Regions from separate parts of the Homo sapiens genome. Here regions 2 and 3 are each reported to be linked to region 1. The links are microRNA targets in miRTarBase. Many come from high-throughput screens and were not tested one by one. Region 1 holds a microRNA gene; each other region holds the end of a gene's coding sequence.
The links. Region 1 holds the annotated microRNA hsa-miR-19b-3p (UGUGCAAAUCCAUGCAAAACUGA, at 2,051-2,073, shown strand). A microRNA usually pairs through its seed, bases 2 to 8, with sites in the 3' UTR of a target mRNA and lowers its output. Matches are read on the target gene's strand: a 7mer-m8 pairs with bases 2 to 8, a 7mer-A1 pairs with bases 2 to 7 and ends in A, and an 8mer does both.

Region 2: the mRNA of SOCS4 is a reported target of hsa-miR-19b-3p. The part of its 3' UTR that is shown has no 7-base or 8-base seed match.
Region 3: the mRNA of MACIR is a reported target of hsa-miR-19b-3p. Seed matches in the 3' UTR shown: 7mer-m8 at 2,120-2,126.

What each region holds. Positions count from the first base shown.
Region 1 is chrX:134,168,492-134,171,755 of GRCh38, reverse strand. MIR19B2 (microRNA 19b-2) reads left to right here and starts at 1,990; the gene lies at 1,990-2,085. It overlaps MIR106AHG (miR-106a-363 cluster host gene), which reads left to right. Exons shown (of 2, transcript XR_007068340.1): 1 at 1-87; 2 at 1,404-2,606. It overlaps MIR363 (microRNA 363), which reads left to right and starts at 2,304; the gene lies at 2,304-2,378. It overlaps MIR92A2 (microRNA 92a-2), which reads left to right and starts at 2,144; the gene lies at 2,144-2,218. It also overlaps MIR20B, MIR18B and MIR106A.
Region 2 is chr14:55,044,030-55,047,270 of GRCh38, forward strand. It overlaps SOCS4 (suppressor of cytokine signaling 4), which reads left to right. Exons shown (of 3, transcript NM_199421.2): 3 at 1-3,241. The coding sequence ends at 335. Among named protein-coding and RNA genes, the nearest start is that of MAPK1IP1L, 6.0 kb to the right of the region's middle.
Region 3 is chr5:103,275,918-103,279,181 of GRCh38, reverse strand. MACIR (macrophage immunometabolism regulator) reads right to left here. Exons shown (of 3, transcript NM_033211.4): 3 at 522-3,264. The coding sequence starts at 3,262. The coding sequence ends at 2,642. Among named protein-coding and RNA genes, the nearest start is that of MACIR, 19 kb to the right of the region's middle.

The DNA.
Region 1 (3,264 bases):
CTGCACGAGGACTGGAGCGCGTGGTGTGAGCAGCTGGAGCACACCCTGGACGCGCGGGCTGCTCGCGGACTTCAACGGGAGCATTAGGTAAGGGTGTGAGAGACGCGGGAAGAGGCAAAAGGGAGCCACAAAGGCGTACAGGGAAGGACTTCTTTCTTTCTTTTCCTTATTATTATTATTATTATTTGCAATTTAAGGGGATTGGAGAGTGACTGCCCAGCGTGCGCGAGGGATGCCAGATGAACCGCTAATTAGCAAAAGGTAGTAACTAGAAGGGCGCCCTGTCTGATGGCTGTGGGGCTCAGTTTGGCCAGGTTGGGTTGGCAAATACTATGCATTTTGAGTCAAGTTTGGAGTATTTTTTTTTTAATGGAAAAGAAATCTTCACAGGTGTAGAAACCCAATTTAAGGGGAAAAATGTTATTTTTCTCATTTCTATACTAAATCCATTCTTCCCTAATAGAAAATTGATTCCAGATTGATGTATAAGTTTTATAAATCAGTTTAGTTTGTAAAGACTTCTAAAGACTCATTTAGTGGCATAAGATATCGTGACGAAAGTTCAACATTTAAAATTCCCTCACTCGTTTAACGTATTACAGATTCTGTCCCAAACGTTTTTGTTTTTCTTTTAAACAAAAGTTACCCCATCATGGAAGAGATAGGGGACCCTGTGAGCCTTTTTCACATAGAGGCTCACTTCCTTGCTGTATGTTCTTAGGTAAAATAAGCACTTGGAAATGGGAGAAGGTTTTCTTATGGAAGATAATGACATGAAGGGAAGAAGAGCTAATCTGCCTACTTTGGTTTAATGGAGAAAATGGGTCCATAAATGTTTAAACAGAAGTAGAGCCCTTTGAAATAGATCAAAATGTGACATCTCTCAGCCATCTGTGCATTATGTGAAGACTGTAAGGCTGTGTTTCTTAAACCAGCTCTAAAATTTCTCTCATTTTCTATTAATGGGGTGGGGGCTGGGAATATTCATTTAATCTAACAGTCACTTTCCGTATGGAGCCCAAAAGCTCTGAATGATCTGAAGACTCGAATACTCATCCTGGGTTTTACATGCTCCTTTCTCTAGGTCCTCCTCTTATAAAATCAGGGTGGATAGAATGTGCCTGCAAATTACTGAGATGCAGATATCAAATTTTCTTAGATGGAGAGGGGGAGTCCAAAATCTGCTTATACATAAGAATTGGACTTTTTGCAGTTGCCAGTGTTATTCGTGTTCAATTCTGTGTAAATAATTGAGATTATTAATATTTCTCAGGATTTGGTTGAAACCACAAAACCTAGCTTAGACTCTGTAAGCCAAAGGAAAGCCTGTTTCAGGAATATTAACTAGTAGTTTACTTGTTTAGTTTCTAATATGTGTGTGTTTGTTTTGTTGTTTTAACCAGGTGAGTCTGCATGGATCTGTGAGGACGGAAAAGAAGAGCTCCTGGAAGACTTAAAATTTTGCTACAGGAATAGGCCTTGGCCATGTAAAAGTGCTTACAGTGCAGGTAGCTTTTTGAGATCTACTGCAATGTAAGCACTTCTTACATTACCATGGTGATTTAGTCAATGGCTACTGAGAACTGTAGTTTGTGCATAATTAAGTAGTTGATGCTTTTGAGCTGCTTCTTATAATGTGTCTCTTGTGTTAAGGTGCATCTAGTGCAGTTAGTGAAGCAGCTTAGAATCTACTGCCCTAAATGCCCCTTCTGGCACAGGCTGCCTAATATACAGCATTTTAAAAGTATGCCTTGAGTAGTAATTTGAATAGGACACATTTCAGTGGTTTGTTTTTTGCCTTTTTATTGTTTGTTGGGAACAGATGGTGGGGACTGTGCAGTGTACAGTTGTGTACAGAGGATAAGATTGGGTCCTAGTAGTACCAAAGTGCTCATAGTGCAGGTAGTTTTGGCATGACTCTACTGTAGTATGGGCACTTCCAGTACTCTTGGATAACAAATCTCTTGTTGATGGAGAGAATATTCAAAGACATTGCTACTTACAATTAGTTTTGCAGGTTTGCATTTCAGCGTATATATGTATATGTGGCTGTGCAAATCCATGCAAAACTGATTGTGATAATGTGTGCTTCCTACGTCTGTGTGAACACACCTTCATGCGTATCTCCAGCACTCATGCCCATTCATCCCTGGGTGGGGATTTGTTGCATTACTTGTGTTCTATATAAAGTATTGCACTTGTCCCGGCCTGTGGAAGAAAGGAGGATTTTTATCGTCTTCTTATTTTAACTTTTAAAAGCCGTAAGTTCTGATATTTAGTCATTGTAAAATGATCTGTTTTGCTGTTGTCGGGTGGATCACGATGCAATTTTGATGAGTATCATAGGAGAAAAATTGCACGGTATCCATCTGTAAACCGCAGGACCTTTGTTGGCGACATTCCTGATCAGCGCTACAGTAAGCTAGATGGTAAAAAATCCTTTCTCTAGTTGCTGCTATTAAAAAATAATTTGAAATATATTTGGATTTCTAAAAACTATGATAGCTAATTTATAAAGTATGTGTTTTGGAACTTTGGTGAATGATCAGATTGTTACTGAATGTGAATGAACCTCAAAATAAATGAAATTTATAGATCTGAAAAAATGACTCTTTTTTTTTTAAAAAAAATAATTAGCAATGCTAGAGGAGTTTGTAAAATATCTCTTGGGAGGATCCTAAAGGAAAACTTGGACATAGCTGCTTTTCAAGTTTGCATCTACATAAAGCACCAAGATGCCTAATTTTAGGAATTTTATTACCCTGACAATATTTGGATGACATGTACTAATTTTGTTTTAGTACACGTGCTCATTCTTAGGAAGGGAATGAAGAGTTGTAAACCAATGGGACACATACCTTTAAGGAACTGGGCACATTTTGAGGTCTGACAGGAGAGAAGAATGAACTTGTCAATCAAACTCTGTTTTGGGGTTCTCGGAGAAGAGGATTTGGTGGCAGGGCTACTGAGAGGGATGGCTGCTGCCTTGCTTTGGAGTCTAGCAGATGGAAACCTGGATGTGGGCCTACTGTTAATATTTAGGGTTCGGGGGCTCCATAGGGTGACTAACCTAAAGCAGAAATTTCTCATGCGCAGCTAATTAGTGGTTTGAGACTGAACACCAAAAGTTATTTGGATCCTCTAGTGGTTCTTAAAACTTTAGCACTTACTAAGACACAGCCAGCCAACCCCATCTCCAGAGATTCATTCAATAGGTCTGGATGGGGCCTAAGGAATTGCATTTCTTTATTTTTTTCTTTTTGA
Region 2 (3,241 bases), not on the chromosome of region 1:
CTCTTCATGCTAGAATTGAACAGTGGAATCACAACTTTAGCTTTGATGCACATGACCCCTGTGTCTTCCATTCTCCTGACATTACTGGGCTCCTAGAACATTATAAGGACCCAAGCGCCTGTATGTTCTTTGAACCACTTCTATCCACTCCCTTAATTCGGACTTTCCCTTTTTCCCTGCAGCATATATGCAGAACAGTTATTTGTAACTGTACAACTTATGATGGCATCGATGCCCTTCCAATTCCTTCTTCTATGAAATTATATCTGAAGGAATATCATTATAAATCAAAAGTTAGAGTACTCAGGATTGATGCACCAGAACAGCAATGCTAGTAACAGGATGGGAACATGGGAATGATAATATATATTTTTTCTTTTAATATTTTATTTTTCTTTTTATGCCACTTTGGATTTTTCTACAAAGGCAGTGGTGTCCAAAATAAAATCTCTGCCCTAAATTTTACTAATAAATCCATTTTTCTAGTGATACACAAATTGTTTAAGGTTATACACTCGAGCTTAAATAGATATTTTTAACCAGGTGTTTGGTTTTTGTTTTTACCGTGTAGGTTGTATACTTACATTTTTTCTTTCCTTAATTTATACATGATCCTTTTTCCTTAATTTATACATGATCCAGGCACATTTGAAATTTGGTAGGCATTGCAAACACATTTGAATATTGTGTATTTCATACTATTCTTTAAAAGTAATCTTATGTCCTTTCCTACATGTAAAATATTTTGTTAATCTATGCCATTAGTAGTATTATATATAAAATATAGTTCCCCGTCCCCCTTTTCATTGAGTTTGATATTCTTCAGTAAAGCTGAATGTTGTAATTCACCATTCATACTAATGTTATTGACTTTTGTAACTTACTAATAGGGATGTTAAAAGTAACAAAACCAAGTCAAACTTGGTGTATTTTTATTTTAAATATTAACTCTAAAGCAGGATTACTAAATTTGATTAATCTGGTCAATGAGAATCAAATGGAAACATATCATTCTGGAGGTGCACTTACTCTTCTACAATGTGGCCGGATCATTTGTCATTCCTGAATAGGTCTTTCTCTCAACCTGCAAGAGCTAAACCATCTTCAAAACATAAATCTTGTTCCTTTCTCATTGGAAGCTTTGAAAATAATGATAACACTATTAGTAGCTAGTAGTTACTAAAGTGCTAAAGTAATTGTGGGGTTTTTCTGTATTAGCTTATGAACTGTTGCTTCTACTTAGCCCTTTTATAGAAACTCTGAGCTGTTACTTTGGGGAAATTCCACAATGTATTAGCAGCCACAAATTTCCACTGGTAACCAAAGAGTACCTAAGTAGTTTTTCATTATTTTAAGTTGAATTTGAATAAAGATTCCAGAAATAAACATGGAGCTCAGTATTCAGGAAGCTTAATACTGTTTTTGATCTACAAGATCCAAATAATTATCCCTATCTTCAGAATTAACTTAGTCTGTAATGTGGCTTCAAAAAAAGAAAGCCTTTTGACAGCTACATGACTTACACCATACAGAACAGTACTGGACAAAAGGGGTGATATTTTAAATTTACTATCCCAGAAACAGGGCAACGTTTTTAGAAACATCTTTAGCCCAAAGTAACTAGTAAAAATAAATGGAGTGGTATCCTATCTTCTTTTTTTAAGGAATCAATGAATAATAAATGTAGATAGACAATTTTCTTCTGGTGAGCTGTCTAACCCTTTGTACACATTGACATTTTTAATATCGTAACTGATTTCTTGATGCTAGTTTAGCTATATTAGGAAACTGCTTCTACCTAGATTGAAAGAAATTTGACTCATAAACTTCCAAGTTAGAACAAATATTTCTTCATTATTGTTGCTTTTATGTGAGTAGCATTTCCCTATCTTGCAGTTCTGTTAACATGAAAATGGCATTTTTCCATAATAGCTTTAAAATAATTTTTTAGTAATTATTACAAAATTAAGGAAAATCTCTATTACCGTTATCTTTTAGCATTTTTTTTTTCCTCAGTGATCTCAAGATTGTCTTAGTCTCAATGAGATGTAGCTACAAAAATGGCACCTCTTAGCAGTGATGAGGCTCAGGATATCGGATATCATAACACCAATGTCAGGATAAATATCTCTTCTAAAGACGATATTTACCTTTTACAAGGTTAGAAAAGTCTCATACTACCTCATCTTTATTGTGGCGCTTTTGTAGATCACTGAGAAGCTTATCTTATTAACCAATATACCACTTCCTAAATATCCATCTTTGGTGAAAGAAAATAGTGTGGTAAGAGTACCCATGATTATAGTTTTTTATCAGAATTTGATAAGATTTTCTGTTTCTGTGAAACAATTATTTTAAATATTTTTCTTTTAAAAATAACTTTTTATCAGTACAGAAAAACCTAAGGGATGACTAGCTTACAAATATTCTGTTAAGGGGTAGTTTTATAAAGAAAAATGATATATAGTTATGTTGTCTTTTATAGTGTTAAAATTAGTATTTATATGAAAGTCAAGATCTAAGTACCTTTTCATATAATTCAAACTGATTGCTTGTGATATGTTTTCTCTGGCTTTTTTATTTTTTCAACTTCAAGGTATTAACAGCTGTTAACACTTAAAAAGTACTGCCACATATGTAGCCTTGAAGTAGTTGATCTAATAAATGAGAGCAGGGAGGAGATTCATTGACTCTGAAATGATTTTTATTTTTCCTTTGGTATTTGCTACAGTGAAAAGAAGTTTGGAAAGTAGATACATAAAGACTTGAGAAGGGAATTGTTTAAGGGAAAAGAAAAGAGTAATAATTTTTTTTAAAACATTAAGGAATTGGAATTCAGAAAGGTTACCCCCTTCCTCTGTGTCTTTGTAAGGATACATTTGGAAGAACATACAGTATTCAGAAACTAACCTATATAAAATGTAAACAATATATTGATTGCACTATATAAATGAGTAAATTTTGAGAGGAACAATGTGGGAATGTATAAATTTGTCTAAAATTTTATAACTGTTGAACAAAGGGAAGATTTGAACAGTGTAAATTCCAGAGTTGAGAAAGCATTTAGCATGGTGGAAATGTGGAGAGCTTATTGGTGAGAGAGGATGGAGCTAAGAGAAATAAGATCAAATATTAAAATTAGGAATTTAGGCATTACCTCAGGGAAAAGCCTTGACAGTGAAAAGAAACTACTTAATCGCTAATAGCTAGTCTGGACCAGACACTTAACTGCGCTTTGGGA
Region 3 (3,264 bases), not on the chromosome of region 1:
TTTACTGCAACTTTATGCATCATCTGAGCTTCAAACAAACGGTACTTTTGCAAAAGAAGAAAAAAATTAAAGTTATATAGTGCTGCAATGTTTAAGGGCAAGAACAGTAAGATAATATCATCAGGTATATTCTGGCCAAGTGTGCCCCATTTAGTGTGGAATATTAAATTGAATAAAAAATGAAAAAGTTAAAAAATAGAAACCATGTCAAAAGGGATTGTTTTTCAACTAAAAGAGATCCAGCCTACCCTTTTTTTAAAAAAATTGGTTCTTACCTACCATAGGCTACAATTCCATGGGGTGCAGAGAAAGTAAGACTGAACTAATAAAGGGGTTCTGCAAACACATTGTGAAAATTACTGGCCTAGAGTTTTGAAACTTTCTTTCTAGAAAACCAAATTTAAAATTATATATCTTTACTAATCAAAAAAGAGTAAGTATGCCATATCTTATACTATTAACCCCCCTATTTTTGCCACAGAGTTTCACCTGTCTTTCAGGAAAAAACAAAACAAAACAAAAAAAGCTACAAATTTTTATTTAGCTATTATTAAGGAACGTAGGCACACGGACAGAACAGGTCTCATAGGTAACCAGTTGTGTTTCCTAATAGGGTGAATACATATCATTGCCATGAATACATCTTTTATCATAAAATGCCAATGAGCATCAAAAGTAAATGGTTTGATTGTTGTTGTCACTGTTTTGTTTAAGAAAAATAGGGCCTTAAAATAAGTGCTTCAGTGGAATTCTTGAACAGTAAGTAGCCTGTTGATAGTGGACCTAGTTTAAAGCACCACACAACAATGTGTGTTTACATCACCCCTTTATTTCATAGTTAGAAATAATACAGTTCCACAGGGTAAATTGTCAATAAATAATGGTGTTTAATCATTAAACATAAAAATCCCACTCTTTGGCATCTGACAGGATTCTATTTCTTGTCAAACTAATGACTGTATAGATATAGCTAATCTTAGTGATCATTCGTCAATACAATATGTTACAAAGGTGCAATTTACTTTAAAATATACAACAGCGAAACATTTCCAGCCCAACGAGAAATCTGATCAACTTAGTAAGATATGGGCCAACTTCCCCAAGGCTCTTTCACGTAGTTTGCCTTAATGAAAGTGTAATAAACGTTGATTAAGAGTTCCTAGGGTTTTCTAATACTTACTTTGCTCTAAATAGAGTTTGCCATTCATTCTGGCTAAAGAAAAATCACAATTGCACCAGGAATGACCCACTCATTAATTAAAAGGTGTTCTTATTTTATAAGCAAGATTGCTAATACCTAAGAAACTCACAGACCCCAAAATAAAAAGCAGTTCTGTGCTGCCAGAAATCCCAATTCAGTAATAAATTGCACCTTTAAGAGTCAAAAATGAGGGAAAAAAGAAATGGAACGTTTACAAAAGGTAAGTTACATACATTTTTTTTTCAAAATATATTCAAGAATAGTTGAGCTGTATTTGTTACTAAACCCAGGGCATTATTTCTTTAGCAACAAATTAAACCAGTGCAATTGACATAAATTGTTAAGTAATCCAGGATTAACCCATTAAAACAGTAGAAGCACGTTAGGCTCCTACACTAATCCTAGAAACTGGAATTTCAGTGAGTGCTTGTGTTACACAGAACTAAAACTGCAATGACCTGATGCCATGCTGAATGGTATCACTTCATACTTAGTTTAATCATTCAATAGTACAAATCATGAGTTCCTCTATTAAACTATTATTCACTTACAGAAAATTCAGATGCAAACAGTATTATGCCTATAATCCACAATTAAAAGAATCCTTTCCCATTTAAAGTTCCAGGTGAATTTTAAGTTAGAAAATAAGCACTAAGGAGAGTTTTTTCAACTTATGAAAACGTCATATTGGAAACTTTCTGGAAAAGTTTCCCCCGCCCACCCATTGTAAAATAAATACTTTGTATCCCAAATTTAATTTTATTAAGACACACTTTAATAACGCTATAAAGAAATATTTTACAGCCATAGAGATCAATAACTTTCCATGCGGAAATAAAAAATTCATTGCTCAATAACATTATTGAGGCAAGTGAAGAAAGATTACTCTCTTGTCAATCTGAAATGTTAATTTTTTCAGTGCAAAACCAGTTATAAAATATTTAAACTCAATATTTAAAAATAAAAAGTGGTCCAATTCAGCAATGTTCAAGTTCTAAATTTCATAAAACAAATCATTACATACATTTTATAGTAAAATACAGAGATTCAAGAAGTACTTGAGTACTGAAGATATAAATTTCTAATGAATCATATCAAGTCAGCAACAACCAAGCAGGTAACATTCCCAATTTGAGTGTCAGAATCATAAAGATGAAATTACTGTACCAAAGCCTTTTTTTCCTAGCTAAAAAGCTATACAAACTAACAGTCAACATTCTGTTTTCTTTGCAGTTGCGTGCTCTAGAATGATATCCCCCCCCCAAGTACCTGTGATTTCATTCCTGTATTCAAATTTGACCCAAACAATTTTTATGTTCCAGGAACACTTAGCTGATATAACCATCTATAGTGTGAAGAGTCATGTACAGAGTACAGCAGTGGGTTTTTTCTAGCCAAGCGTAGGCTGACCTAAATTGGTTTAAGCTCTCTCCAAGTCATTCATGTATTATTCCTAGCAAACACACGGTCCCCTCGGAGGGTTAGGTGTTGAAGCTGGTACTGTAGCACTTCTGTATCAGCTGGCTCCTTGATCATTTTATCTAGATTGAGGTAGTCCAGAGATTTGGAGTGAGCCCTCTTACCTTTAAGAAGACAAAGAGGCAGAGGCCCATGGAGGGCCTTGTAAGGTTCATAAGGTAAAGATTTAGTGCACTTGTCTCCTGAGCTTGGCATCCGCCTTCGCCTCCTGCCATTGACAGCTGGAATCTCGTATGGCTGGTAGTACCTACTTCTGGTTTTATACAAACGAGAGGAACGGGCAAGTCCTGCATCTAGCTGTTTGGAGCGTAAGGATGGCATGGCTTCTGCTTTGCTCTCTTCACCTCCTGTGCACTTCTGAGCTAACTTCAGGAGTTCCTCGCCAGTCGTGAAGCCAACCAAATAGTTAGAGTCCATGTGTAGGATCTGGTAGCCTGACACGGTCCTCCGCATCGGGGAGCAGGGTGTGCTGGAGCAGCGGGGCTTCTCTGCCTCCGCCTTTCCCGGGGAGTTGGCCTCAGCCCCAGGGAAGGGCAAGGTGGTCAGGGTACTTCTAGACTCTCCATTAATATCGACTTCCATTT